Homo sapiens: one gene and its partner. The protein of the gene in region 1 interacts with the protein of each later gene in a biochemical or structural test. Each region holds a gene or a part of one and is shown in the gene's direction. Other genes may lie near its edges.

Region 1 (7,573 bases):
TCTTTGTAACTTTTCATGGTATTTGCCATATTCTGCTTTTTGGATCATAGATGATAATGTTTACTTACAAATTATTTGAATGGAAGCACATTGTATTATTTATCTTTGGAGAAAGAATCATTAAGTATGGTTTTTAATTGAGTTTACTCATTCAGTATTGCAGTGTTTCTCAATCAAGGGTGATTTTTGCATTCCCTGCCCCCAGCCCCGCCCTTCTCCCACCCAGAGAATATATGGCGATCTCTGTGGAAACCTTTTCAGTGGGTTTGAGGGTGTTGCGACTGGCATCTAGTGGGTAGAAGACAGAGATGCTGCAAAACATCCACAGTGCATAGGACAGTTCCCTACAGTAGAACATTATCTCGTCCAAAATGTGAATAGTACTGAGGTTGGGCGACCCTGAATTAGGTGAACAGTATCATTTACCTGATGTTTAGGCAATTCTAAATTTACTTTAGTACCTGCTACTTTTACTAATCAATTGTGAGGAGTCTTTTCAAAATAACAAGATAATTTGAAAATATTATTTCTGTCCTAGAATAACTTATTCTTAATATGATTTTCTTTTATTTTTTTCCCTTAGGCAAGTTTTTCAAATAATTGAGACTTTTCACATGTGATCTGTACTGAGATACATTTAAGTCAAAGAAAATACTATGCAAGTAACCTGTGACTAGGCATTTTATTTAGCAAAAGTATCAGTTAAATGTATGGTAATAATAGAATCACTGAGCTAAGGAAATAATGTGTGTTATAAAGAGAAGAAAGTTGCTTGCCGTTTTGTCATTTTATGAATGCATGTTGTTTGTGTTTGGTCCTGGAGGTGGGAGTGGTGATAGTTGGGTTCATTTTGCAGTCTATAAGGGACTATTTGGAAATTTCTCTCTTCTGTTTTAAAAAATTGTCAGTAGTAGACTGATCTAATTTTTGCAAATTAGCCACTTTGCACTTTTTAAATTTTTTAGCCAGTTTCTGGTTTTCCAGACTATTCTCATTCTAAGGACTTTAAAATGAGAAAAGAAATATTTTATATTTAGATAGGATTCTACTTTAATTTCATGATTTTTAAAAGCATTTTTTGCTTTATTTAATAAAGTAACTTCATATCTAGAAAACATTTAAGGTAGAATTTTATTATGTATTATTACCAAAACAAGAAAAATATTCTGAATTAAATATTGGACTAGGTATCATGTTTATGGAGAGAAAAAGAATGGAACATTTGTTAGCTCTGCTGACATAAGGATGAGGTATGTGTTATTCCACCATTTGCTAGCAGGCATGCTTTTGACACATTATTCTCTGTAAGCCTTTGTTCTTCAGTAAAATGCCTATGTCGTAAGTTTGGTGCAAGAAGTAAATGAGATGTATATATTTAAAGCACTTAGTGTAGTGTATGGCATATGGCATGTAGTTGCAACTAGAGCCTTTCTGTTTACTATTCTAATTGAGCAATTTTCATTATAAAAGACTTCCATTTTTAAATATATTTACAAAAATTAAATCAATTTAATCTCTATGATAGAATGTATGTTTTTTAAAGTTTTTATTTTTGTATTAATCATATGGTATAATTCATTAAATTAATAAATACTTTTCTTTTTCTGTTGTTAAAGATATCCTATATTTGAAAATCCCTACCCTTTGAGTATACATGAGTCCCCTGTTACATGTTGCGAATATTTTGCGGATTGTCCTGTGGACCTTATTCCTGCACTTTATTCTGTTGGAGCTAGACAGAAACGTCAAGGTTACAGCAAAAAGGTATTGAACATGAGCTTCAGTATTTAATGTTATATTTCTTATTTATTCTATATTTATCACCTTGGAGTATTTGATAACATTATACCTTTTCTATGGAAAATAGGTTAAAAATTATTTTTGCAAGCAAAATATGTTTTTCACTGGATTATTTACACACACACACACACACACACACACACGGAGGTATGTAGTATGCTTGCAAGTTGCTTTATACAGTCATCTTTTTTTATAGGAATGGCCCATCAACGGAGGTAATTGGGGCTTGGGTGCTCAAAGTTACCCAGAAATAATTATTACAGGGTAAGTAAAAGTCTGTCTTCACCAAGTAAATCTATAATAGCTAAATATAATTGATTGAGACTACATGAATGTTAACTTACTGGACAGGTAGAGCTTTCCTTTATGTCGTAATATAATAAGAAATGTTATTCTTAAGAACCTGCCAGTTTACCCTGATTTTTTTTACCTTTTTACTCATTTTGTTGACTTTTTAATAGCAGTACCCATTTAAAGAAGGAAGAACTGTAATTTTATTCATCACATTCTTAACATTGCTTTTCTTAGGCATGCTGATGGGTCAGTTAAGTTCTGGGATGCTTCTGCAAGTAAGTATTTTTAATATTCATTATTTGTTATATGTTATACAATCACTGCTTTTATGCATCCTGTTTTATAATAATTGCATAACCAATATTTAATTTGAAATGTAGAGGTTATAAATTTAATGCTTGATTTATTAAATACATGAGTTTAGAATTTTTAATATAGTCTTAATATTAGTAAATCAAGAATAATTGGCAACACAAGTATTCAATTTTATTTTTTCCTTCAAAATTTCTTCAAACCTTATCTTCCTAAGTCAGAGTTAGGGGAAGTGGGAATGTGTTCCAAATCAACAGAAATTTCTAGAATAATTTTAATGCCTGACTCTAAATTTGTATCACTAACGTTCATGTTGTCTTTGCGAAATAAATCTGGTGGTTACATAGTAGCAAAAAAAGAAATAATGCCTTTAATGATTAATGTTTCAAAACACACATGGCAAGCATTCAATTGGAATCCAGTTAACTCAGGATATGTTGTGTTTCCTCATGTAGGAATGTTTAATTATATTGGTACTGTATCTTTTCTAGAGAAGATACATAGAAAATCATTTTAGGAAGCAAACTGTGTTGTTTATTATTTTCATGTATTTACACATTATTTTTCCAAAATGTTTTTATTACTCATTTTTTTAAGATTACCTAAAATCCATTGTGATAATAGATTTTTCTTCATGAATACAATGAGCACACTCTTGTTTGGTCAATGAGAACAAAGAATATATTATCTAAATGTTTAATAGACTAACGTAAATTGAGAAATGAAAATATGATGTAGTTAAATATGGACCATTTTCTATACATAGTATGAGTGATTAAATGTTACCTTATGTTTGATCATTTTATATTAAAGTATCTGACATATATTATCTTTTTTCCAGTAACTCTACAAGTATTATATAAGCTAAAGACATCTAAAGTATTTGAAAAGTCAAGAAATAAAGATGACAGGCCAAACACAGACATTGTAGATGAAGATCCATATGCCATTCAGATCATCTCCTGGTGTCCAGAAAGTAGAATGCTGTGCATCGCTGGAGTTTCAGCTCATGTCATTATTTATAGATTCAGCAAGCAGGAAGTAATCACAGAAGTCATTCCGGTAATAACGTCTTAGTTATTTTCATGGTCAAGTTATTTTCATCCACATTTTTAAATTTGTGGATGATTTGGAAGACTTTTTGCAGTCAGTTTTGTGCAGAACTTTTGAAAACACCTTAGTATTTATATTATTATCTCTCTTTTGTAAAAAACAGCATTTTTTGCATATATTTTCACTGATTATTTAAATCCTTAAGTATAGGATATGTTTCCTTTAAGGAAAGCTAATATGAATATGAGTATACTCTAATTTGATATTAACACGAGTACCATACATTCTAAAATCATAATGCACGTTTGTGTGTGTACTCCCTGAGTCAAGAACGTTTTCTTTCTTGCTAAATCCTTATTTTTTGAAATCTTGCTAAATTTTTACCTTTAAAAATCTTCTTGCCACTGAAGTTTATGTAAAGTGTGTGTGTATGTGTGTATAAATTGTGATAAAATGAGCAATAATTATTAGGAGTAAGTAAACTACCTTACTTTTACAACAGATGCTTGAAGTTCGATTATTATATGAGATAAATGATGTGGAAACTCCGGAGGGTGAGCAGCCACCACCTTTGCCAACACCCGTGGGAGGGTCCAACCCTCAGCCCATCCCTCCTCAGTCTCATCCATCTACCAGTAGCAGTTCATCTGATGGGCTTCGTGATAATGTACCTTGTTTAAAGTAAGTTATAAAAAACTACAGAGGAGTTTTGGATATTATCTTTTAATTTATATAAATTGTAAGCATTAGAGCTATGGTAACATTTTCTTTTGATATAGCAAAATGGCATAAGAATGGTTCTTCCTGTGTTTTGCTATGGTTAGTCCAACTCATTTTTCTATGACATCAAGAGGAATATGATTGCATTTCATGATATTATCCTTAAAATATTAAGGTTTAATCTCCAAACATTCTCGTAAAGCAGCAAGGATCTAACCTGTATATATCGCTCAGTCTTCTAAATCCATCAGTGTTTTTAGTCTTGATTTATATGTAGCTTGGATTTATGTTCCGACTGCTTTCTACAACTCTGAAAATTCTGTTTAAGTCTTTTAAGACTCAGTTGTTTTCTAATCATTTTCTTTTTCTGAATCTTCACTAGCACCACCGTATCTTTATTTAAAACGTTTTATTGTTGCATCCTAAATTTAAATATATCTTGCTTTTATACAGAGATAAATTGGATGAAGTTTTATTTTTTCTGTCCAATTTTTATTATTGAGTGGTTAAAATGTTTAAATGATAGAGGCAGAGAAATAAAACAATGAGTAAGAAGTTAAAATCATTGAAAAAGTACATGAAGACTATGTGATTAATAGTATATTTACAAAGAATTCAACTAGGATAATGACGGAAAGGTGGTTCTGGTAGCACTCAGAGAGATTCAGTAGATTGGTAGAGGGCAAAAGCCAGAGTGTACTAGGTTCAAGGTAGAGAGGGTAGTAAGTAAGAGAAATAATTTGCATTTATTAAAAGGACCAGGCTTTGCACTATTTTACTTTAATCTGCTTGAGTCTCTTCTACTGGTAGATAAATAATTTCTGGGAAGAATGTCTGTGTAATGAATAATGCACTCACACCAAAGATAAAACGGATAGATTTTTTTTATATTACAATCATTTTAAAAATACAGAGTTTTAGAAAATTATATGTTTACAAAAATTGAAGGTCATGTAGTCTAAGCTGGTGGCTCTCATTTGCATATGATTTTGTTCCCTAGGGGACATTTGGAGATGCTTTTAGTAGACACAACATGAGGAAGGGAGATGCTATTGACACTTAGTGGGTAGAGGCCAGGGATAATGTTAAATATTCTACAATGGACAAGGCAGTGCACACAACAAAGAATTACCAGCTCAAAACATCAGTAGTGCCAAGGATGAGAACCTCTGATCCAAACAGTATATACCCATTGAGGTTAAGCAGCTACATTTCTCAGAAAGGTATCAAGTTTTTCTTTCTCTCCTCTCCCTCTCTCATACCTGTACTAGAATATACACACTTATAACTGTAGTTCTAGCACATGTTTTAACTAGAATGAGACTTGGGAATACAGAATTCTACACTTTTCCCCTTTATTACTTCTTCAATACTACTTTATACTTAAAATTGTAAATGTTCCGTTAATGCCCTTGTTTCTGATTTCAATGTTTTTTTCCCAAGCCCTTTGTTACATTTAATTTTTATGACATACGTAGTACAATTTGTCTTTGGGGCATTTTTTGTAACGTATTTCTATATTTCTGAAATAGTGTTTTCAACTACTGAAGTGACATTTTAACAAAATAACAATTCCATATAAACATACATTATCTTCAACAGAATTAGAATGATTTATTTAATTTGTACTTCATAATTTCTGATGCCTCCAAGTTTTTTAGGCTTGTGGCCAGAGATCCAGCAGTATAAAACATTAAATTCTTTTCCTACCTGAAGAAAAAACACCATCAATGCACTGCTTTCTCATGACAAGATAGGTCAGAGGAAATAGTACTGACAGGAGAAGCAGTACTGTTTGGACCAGAGTGACAAGACCTCTTACCTTGGCTTTCTAGGTTAAAGTTAAAGGCCAGCCTGATAGGTGAGTCTTTGTCCTCTGTTCTTAGAAAGGCCTTTTTTTTCCAGTTTTTTTACTGACTGAAAGAGCAAGGATAATAGTTAAGGCAGCAACCAGCAGCAGCTGTTAAAACCAGCAAACCAAAATGCAGAGTACAACAGTACCCAAATCCATTTTAAAGGTAATACTGACTTCGTTCTGCAATTATGAGTTTTCTTTATTGTTCATGGACCTGAGATTATGGTATGGCCATCTTTCTTGTTTGGGAGGACTTTTCATACTTGTGATGGAATGTTATGGCACACTATTAATCTTTTGTAATTATTTAATGGAATGTCACTTAATATAAGAATTCCTTTTAAGCTGCTGGTTAGTCCCAGTAGACAGAGAGTCTCATTAGCCAATCCATTAATGATACATGTGAGGAGAGTCCTTTTTGTTGTTGGCATTAATTGTTATCTTTTGTGTATGGATACACTTTGCCAATCCTGGGATATACACGCAATAACATCTTAACAGTTTTTTCTGAATCCTAAAATAACTAATGACTGTGATTTGATGGTTTTTTTTCCTTTTGAATATCACTGTGGAACTCTAGGTATTTTTTATAGGCAATTTGTTTTAACTTACTGAATTTAATCAACTTAACGTGATTTTGTCACAGTTTTCTAGAGGGAGCTTCTTTTAAGTTGGTGTTTGTGTCTTCTTAACACCACCTCAGAACTTTGTGACCATCCTTAATTTCTGTCAAGATGTTCTAGACTTGCTTTGAATACTACTTGCCCTCACAGGGTAACAGACCAAAATATGATCTTTAGAAATGTTTGTAACATTATTTTTAATAAGCAGTATATTGTTATAGTAGACCACCTGGTGACAAGAGCTAAAAAAAATGGGGGGGTTGTTTTTTAAAAAACAGTCATTAAAACTCTTTTATTTTTCATTGAGTTTTTACATTACTATATAATGTAAATAAATAATTTTAAATCTCTTACCCAAACCACTCTTCTCCTATAATTTGATTAGCCTGGAATTATTCCATTTAATATTATTTATCTGTTAACAAAAGTAAGTCCAAAATTGTAGTATTAAAATTACCACTGATAGTAAAACACTAGATGAATAGTAAAATATAACATGACAGCTGTCCTTTAGACCTTTGAGCATATGACAAGTGATTCATAAGGCAATTACATTGTTTTGAGTTACTTTAATAATTTTTCTTCTGTTTTGGTTTTTTGTAGACTAACCTCATGTATAATAAAACTTTATAACAACTAACCTCATGTATAATAAAACTTTATAAATTCATTTTATCTTGAGACTTAATATTTTAAGGGACAGTTCTTTTTGGAAGTAGCGTTTGGTGTCAGATAGAGGTAAACTGCCCTGTCAGTATGTTTTATAAAATGGATGGAACTTTGAAGCAGTTCAGACTTTAAAGACACACATAGGAGATTCAGCCAGAGTCCTGTCACCTGTAATTGCTTACTAGAATCTACGAAGGAGCCCAGTAATTATACTTCTCTTTACCTATCTGGATTCTTTTTTTTTTTT
Region 2 (7,573 bases), on another chromosome or scaffold:
TGAGACGGAGTCTCACTCTATTGCCCAGGCTGGAGTATAGTGATGCGATCTCGGCTTATTGCAACCTCTGCCTCCTGTGTTCAAGCGATTCTCCTGCCTCAGCCTCCTGAGTAGCTGGGATTATAGGTGTGTGCCACCACGCCCAGCTAATTTTTGTATTTTTAGTAGAGATGGGGTTTCACCTTGTTGGGCAGGCTGGTCTCAAACTTCTGACCTCGTGATCCGCCCACCTCAGCCTCCCAAAGTGCTGGGATTATAGGCTTGAACCACCACACCCGGCCATTGTTTTGTTTTAAAGGGAAGGATAGGCTGGCAATTCTTTTTGTTTTTTCCTTTAATGGAAACAGTCTCACTATGTTGTCTGGGCTGGTCTTGAGCTCCGGTACTCAAGAAATCCTCCTGCCTCGGCCTCCCAAAGTGCTGGGATTATAGGCATGAGCCACTGTGCCCGGCCTGAGCTGGCAATTTTTAAAGATAGAATAGCATCATGAATTTGGCCTGTGATCAGATTTTTTTTTCTACATATTTTGGAATGCTAAAATTCTGTGTTCTTTCCTAGTCTCTGGAAAGTACGAGGAGAATCCTGGGTTTAGCCATTGAGGTAAGAAAATGTTAGTCATCAACTTAAGTATAGAAATTTATAGGAGCGATCCTAATACTTCTGGCTGGAATTAGTATTAAAGGGTAATGTATCAATATGCTTTATTATTTGAAATTAACAGTTGCTGAAATGTCAAACCATGCACTAATGGGAATTTTCTGTTTTTCCCTTTAACAGTATTGGAATATGACAGGGAAGATGAATTCACTATGAGTTTGTGACTTAATTATTTTGGGGGCTGCTATGTTAAAGTGTGTTAGTTTAAGAATACTAGTTCTGTCTGTAGCTCTAATCCTCTGAGAGCTTGGGTTTCTAAATTATTCTGTGTTGCTCTTGTAGGTTTTGTTTCTGTTGTTTTTGGTTTGTTTTGTTGTACTATCAGCTTTTCCCCCCTTGTCTTAGTCTCAGGATGCAGGAATCAAGACCATCACTATGCTGGATGAACAAAAGGGTAAGTTAAATTATTAGCAGAAATTCTTAATTTGACTGTGATGCCAAAAAGCCCTATCAAATTAGCCACATACAAATTTCAGCCTTTGGGAGAGCCTTCCCTTTGTAAAATAAGAATGTTATGTTTACTTCTTGTCTTCTGATTTGAATTATATATCATGTTCACTGTCTATTTGGGATGGCAGGCAACAATGCCCAATTGTATATACCAAGTATGTGTTAGGCCAGCATGGCTTATTTTGTGTATTGGTTATATGTGCCTTAGACATTATGATAGTAACATAGCTGGGATTACAGGCACCTGCCACCACACCCAACTATGTTTTTCTTTTTTTTTGGGGTGGGGGACGGAGTTTCGCTATTTTTGTCTAGTTTTGGGGGTGGGGGATGAAGTTTCGCTCTTCTTGCCCAGGCTGGAGTGCAATGGCGTGATCTTGGCTCACTGCAACCTCCTCCTCCTGGGTTCAAGTGATTCTCCTGCCTCAGCTTCCTGAGTAGCTGAGATTACTGGTGCCCACCACCACACCCGGCTAAGTTTTTGTATTTTTAGTAGAGACGGGGTTTTACCATGTTGGCCAGGCTGGTCTCGAACTCCTAACCTCAGGTGATCCACCCGCCTTGACCTCCCAAAGTGCTGGGATTACAGGTGTGAGCCACCGTGCCGGGCCTTTTGTTTTGTTTTGTTTTGTTTTTTTAATTTTTATTTTTTGAGTCGGAGTCTTACTCTGTCACCCAGGCTCGAGTGCAGTGGTGCAATCGTGGCTTACTCCAGGATCCTCTACCTCCCACGTTCAAGTGATTCTCCTGGCTCAGCCTCCTGAGTTGCTGGGATTACAGGTGTCCACCACCACACCCAGCTAATTTTTTGTGTTTTTAGTAGAGATAGGGTTTCACCATGTTGGCCAGGTTGATGTCGAACTCTTGACTTCAAGAGTCACTTGATCCGCCCACGTCGGCCTCCCGAAGTGCTGGGATTATAGGCGTGAGCCACCGTGTCTGGCCAGACATTGTGATATTCTTACATCATCCTCAGAAATCAAGTTCTAAAACAGATCTAGATTCAGGTATGCTTGGAAACACTTGAGTTGAGTTGGCCCTGAGTAATCAGGTCTAGTTTTTATTACTCTTATAATAGCCCTCAGGTTTTGAACCTATTATAGAAATGATGGGGATTTGACCTCGTCAAAGTACCCTTAACTTGGTTGTAAGGATGATCTCTAAATAACCGTCCCTTGGTCCTACTATACAAGATTCTTTTTTTTTTTTTTTTTTTCGAGCGGGAGTCCCACTCTGTCATCCAGGCTGGAGTTCAGTGGTGCAATCGCAGCTCACTGCAACCTCCAACTGCCGGGTTCAAGCAATTCTCCTGCCTCAGCCTCCCAGGTAGCTAGGATTACGGCACCCATCACCACACCCAGCTAATTTTTGTATTTTTAGTAGAGATGGGGTTTCACCATGTTGGCCAGGCTGGTCTTGAATTCCTGACCTCAGGTCATCGCCCACCTCGGCCTCCCAAAGTGCTGGGATCACAGGCGTGAGCCACCATACCCAGCCATATACAAGCTTTTTAGAACAAATTTTTCCACAGCAAGAGGCTAGGTGCCTCCGGATCAGTACGTGAAAGATTGTTATCATGTTGAATCGCTTCTAATACCTTTTGACACTGACATACTCACTGTGGGGAGTTATTGGTAGATTCAAGGTTGAAGTTTGCTGTTCCATAATAATAGCATTTTCTGGTTGACACTGTGAATGGAACACAAAGTGTTAACTTCACAACTTATTCTTAGAACAACTAAACCGCATAGAAGAAGGCTTGGACCAAATAAATAAGGACATGAGAGAGACAGAGAAGACTTTAACAGAACTCAACAAATGCTGTGGCCTTTGTGTCTGCCCATGTAATAGGTGAGTTGATAAATTAAGATGGTTTCAAAATAAGTAATGAGAGTACCCCACCTTCTCCCACCAGCTAAGGTCAGAAGTATGACTGGGCTTAATGAGGAACTCTATTAGATAAATCTAAGTTGTCTCTCCTTCAGGCAGATTAAGCTTTTTGTGTAAATACTGCGTGTTCACTGAAAACTGTGACTTACATTTGACCAATCCTGGGATCAAGTCCAATTTCAATTTGTAGTAATACATGAAAAGGTTAGGAAGTATAGGGAAATGTATATCTGGATGATGGAAAGCAGGATGGAGTTATTTTCTTTTCCTTTCAAAGGAGGAGTATTAACAAAATATATATTTTGTGGTAGGCACATGAGGGATGGCCAAAAGAGTAGAAGAGTTGGGAAAGAATGGCAAAACATAAAAAATACATAAATCTAATGTTAGATTATATGATAGTGAGCAAGGCTAAATCTAATGTTAGATTATATGATAGTGACCAAGGCTAGGTATACAGAACTGATAAAGGTTGGGTTGGAGAGCATCTTATAGAAGAGGTAGGATGTGGATTGGGCTTTGAGTGATAAGAAGGATTTGGATGAACAGGGAGGAACAGTGAGGGCATTTCCTATGAAAGGTTCAAAATAAAGATTAACAAGGAGCTTGACTTAACTGAGCTGTGTGACTCATGTAGATGAGAAGTGGAAAGTAAGATATAAGTAGGTAGTAGAGGAACTTGAATGCCAAACTAAGGAGTTGACAGATTGGAGTGGAGTATAAAAAGAAACGACAGTATCTGGAGATTGAATGACTGTACTCACTGCTGAAAGTTTTGTTTTGTTTTTTTTCTGAGACAGGGTCTCTGTTACTGAGGCTGGAATGCAGTGGCGTGATCACAGCTCACTGCAGCCTCTCTTTCCTGGGCACAAGAGATCCTCCCACCTTGGCCTCCCAAAGTGCTAGGATTACAGGCATGAGCCACTGCACACAGCCAAAGTATCCTTTTTTTTTTGAGACGGAGTCTCACTCTGTTACCAGGCTGGAATGCAGTGGCGCAGTCTCAGCTCACTGCAACCTCCGTCTCCTGGGTTCAAGTGATTTCTCCTGCCTCAGCCTCCCGAGTAGCTGGGACTACAGGCGCATGCCACCACACCCAGCTAATTTTTGTATTTTTAGTAGAGACGGGGTTTCACTATGTTGGCCAGGATGGTCTTGATCTCTTGACCTCATGATCCGCCCGCCTTAACCTCCTCAAGTGCTGGGATTACAGGTGTGAGCCACCACACCCGGCCTCAATGTATTCATTTTTAAAGAGGTTCTTAGACATTAATATTTCATCCAGTTCTCAGCTGGTCTTGTAAACCAACAGCGGTTATATTTTTATATTTTCAGTAAGTGTTTTTATGAAACAACATTTTTATGCCATTTCTGTTATAGAAAGTAGAGATTAATTGCTTGTCAGTCAACTTTAGTGTTTGTTTTGGCCATGAGGAAAGGTTTGACAGTGTTCTTCCTAGTCTTATCCATTGGCTTCCTATTCTAACACAAGTCTGTTGACCTGTTTACACCTTGGTTGACCAACTGAAAGTTCTGTATTTTTTGAGACGGAGTCTCGCTCTGTCACCCAGGCTGGAGTGCAGTGGTGTGATCTCGGCTCACTGCAACTTCCACCTCACGGGTTCAAGTGATTCTCCTGCCTCAGCCTCCCAAGTAGCTGGGATTACAAATATGTGCCACCATACTCAGCTAATTTTTATATTTTTAGTAGAGACAGGGTTTCGCCGTGTTGGCCAGGCTGGTCTCAAACTCCTAACCTCAGGTGATCTGCCCGCCTCTGCCTCCCAAAGTGCGGGGATTACATGCGTGAGCCACTGCTCCCGGCCAAAAGTTCATATTTTAATAACTATGACTTGTCAATCAGAGTTTAGCAGATTACTTTAAGCAAACAAGTTAAAATGTACAGATTATTTGATACAAACTCTTAGCTATGTTTTACAAACATAATTGTACCTTTCTCTTGTGTTCCATGTACCTTCTTGGAAGAGTACAGAAGAGAGGAAGTAGATGAATTTTCTTGAGATCAGATGTTAGGAGAACAAGGAGAAAGAAGTCTCCCCTAAAATCTTAGAGGAAGATCAGCTCTAAGTCACGTGTTGATAAATAGGAAGAGCACTGAATTAGACCTAAGATGGTCTAATATCATAGAAAGTGGGAAATGCAGCTACAGAGTATTAATTTTATGTCTCTTTGTGTATCCCAGCCAAGCATAGGCAAGCTTTTCTTGAAGACTGGTGGGAAACAAGGTAGGGTATGGTCCTGAATCAGCATTCTTCAGCCTCTAACCTCAGTAGAACCCTTTCTCAGTGGATCAAGAGAAGGCATTACTTTTTTAGAGATGGCCTCTCCCTCTGTCTCCCGGGCTTGAATGCAGTGGTGCCACCATAGCTCACTGTAGCCTCAAACATCTGGGCTCAAGCAATCCACCCACATCAGCCTCCCAAGTAGCTAGGATTACAGGTGTGTGCCACCATGCCCAGCTAATTTTTGAAATTTTTTGTAGAGACAGGGGTCTTGCTATGTTGCCCAGGCTTGTATCAAACTCCTGGCCTCAAGAAATCCTCCCACTTCAGCCTCCCAAAGCACTGGGATTACAGGCTTAAGCCACTGCACCCAACTGGCACTTCTTTCTTTTTTTTTTTCTGGCACTTCTTGAGAGATGGAATCAAGGGGCTGCTGTAACAAAACAGTTCCCTTAAGAGAAGAAAGTATTATCTCAGTTAAAGATGTCTGATTGTAATTGTCTTTCTTCCACCTATTTCTTTCTTACACCATTGAGACCTTGGCCAGTATGATATCTCTTATCCTCAGCTCTGTTCCTATCATTCTTGCCTGTGTCTTGATCTTTCTAATCTGCTAGTCTGTGTTTCAGTTAGGCTCGTCACATGAATAACCATAACATGAGCTTCTTAAAGGTAGACATGAGATCTTAGTCCTATGTGTAAGGCCTAGTCTTCATACCAGCAGTAGCAGTAACAACCCAGGTCAGGTCCAGAGTTCCTTATTTGCCATTTGGAAATACTTTTTCTTTTCTTTCTCTTTTTTTTTTTTTTTTTTCTCGAGACAGGGTCTCGCTCTGTTACCCAGGCTGGAGTGCAGTGGCAGTCATGGCTCACTGCAGCCTCAACCTATCCTCCAGCGTCAGCCTCCTGAGTAGCTGGGATTACAGGCACATGCCACCACACCCAGCTAATTTTGTATCTTTTGTAGAGACAAGGTTTCACCATGTTGGCCAGGCTGGTCTTGAACCCTTGGGCTCAGGCAGTCTACCCACCTTGGCCTCCAGAAGTGCTGGGATTGCAGGCATGAGCCATTAAGCCCTGCTGGCCATTCAGAAATCTAAAAAACTCCTAAAGTTTTGTTTTATTTTTGCTGTAATGGTGCCACAACTCATTAGGGTATAAAATGTAACCTGAACTGAAGCTATGTTTAGTCTTTATTACTTGCTGTAGATATTAATTGGTTTCACTACAGAAATACTCTTTTTGAGTCAGGGTCTCACTCTGTCACCCAGGTTGGAGTACAGTGGTATGATCTTGGCTCACTGCAGCCTCGACCTCCTAGGTTCAAGTGATCCCCCCACCTCAGCCTCATGAGTAGCTGGGACTACAGGTGCATGTCACCATGCCTGGTTTGTTTTTAAAAACTTTTGTTTCTTCTTCTTTTTTTTTTTTTTTTTGAGACGGAGTCTCACTCTGTTGCCCAGGCTAGAGTGCAGTGATGCAGTCTCAGTTCACTGCAACCTCTGCCTCCTAGGTTCAACCGATTCTCCTGCCTCAGCCTCCCAAATAGCTGGGATTACTGGTGCCTGCCACCACGCCCAGCTAATTTTTGTATTTTTAGTAGAGATGGGGGTTCACCATGTTGGCCAGGCTGGTCTTGAACTCCTGACCTCAGGTGATCCGCCTGCCTCGGCCTCCCAAAGTGCTGGGATTACAAGCATGAGCCACCATGCCTGACCCTGTTTCTTTTCTTTTCTTTTTCTTTTTTTTTTTTGAGACAGAGTTTTACGTTGTCACCCAGACTGGAGTGCAGTGGTACAATCTCGGCTCACTGCAACCTTCGCTTCCTGGGTTCAATCGATTCTCATGCCTCAACCACCCAAGTAGCTGGGATTAGAGGCATGCACCAACACCTTGCTAACTAATGTATTTTTAGTAGAGACGGGGTTTTGCCATGTTGGCCAGGATGGTCTTGAACTCCTGACCTCAAGTGATCCACCCACCTCGGCCTCCCAACGTGCTGGGGTTACAGGCATGAGCCACCGTACCTGGACTTTAAAAAGTTTTTGTAGAGATGAGTTCTCACTATGTTGCTCAGGCTGGTCTCAAACTCCTAAGCTCAAGCAATCCTCCCACATTGGCCTCCCAAAGTGCTGGTATTACAGAAATGAGCCACCACACGCAACGTCACTACAGAAATATTAATGTATTTAATTATGTGGTACTGTCCAAAACATCTTGCCCCCAATGGATTGGGGTAACAGTTGTGGGCCTGTGCATTAATTTAAGGTACTATTCTGAACATGTTAATTTAATCCTTAAACAGTAGCCTTAATATGAGATAGATGTTTTT

Evidence for each region. The genes of interacting proteins can lie anywhere in the genome.
Region 2: the proteins of STXBP5 (region 1) and SNAP23 form a complex in vitro, tested with the Homo sapiens proteins (one study listed by BioGRID).

What each region holds. Positions count from the first base shown.
Region 1 is NC_000006.12:147,312,268-147,319,840, forward strand, and holds part of STXBP5 (syntaxin-binding protein 5), read left to right. Parts: intron 1-1,616; coding exon 1,617-1,764; intron 1,765-1,996; coding exon 1,997-2,064; intron 2,065-2,328; coding exon 2,329-2,369; intron 2,370-3,247; coding exon 3,248-3,468; intron 3,469-3,961; coding exon 3,962-4,140; intron 4,141-7,573. UniProt on the Homo sapiens protein: Plays a regulatory role in calcium-dependent exocytosis and neurotransmitter release. Inhibits membrane fusion between transport vesicles and the plasma membrane.
Region 2 is NC_000015.10:42,512,396-42,519,968, forward strand, and holds part of SNAP23 (synaptosomal-associated protein 23), read left to right. Parts: intron 1-559; coding exon 560-601; intron 602-1,003; coding exon 1,004-1,052; intron 1,053-2,841; coding exon 2,842-2,959; intron 2,960-7,573. UniProt on the Homo sapiens protein: Essential component of the high affinity receptor for the general membrane fusion machinery and an important regulator of transport vesicle docking and fusion.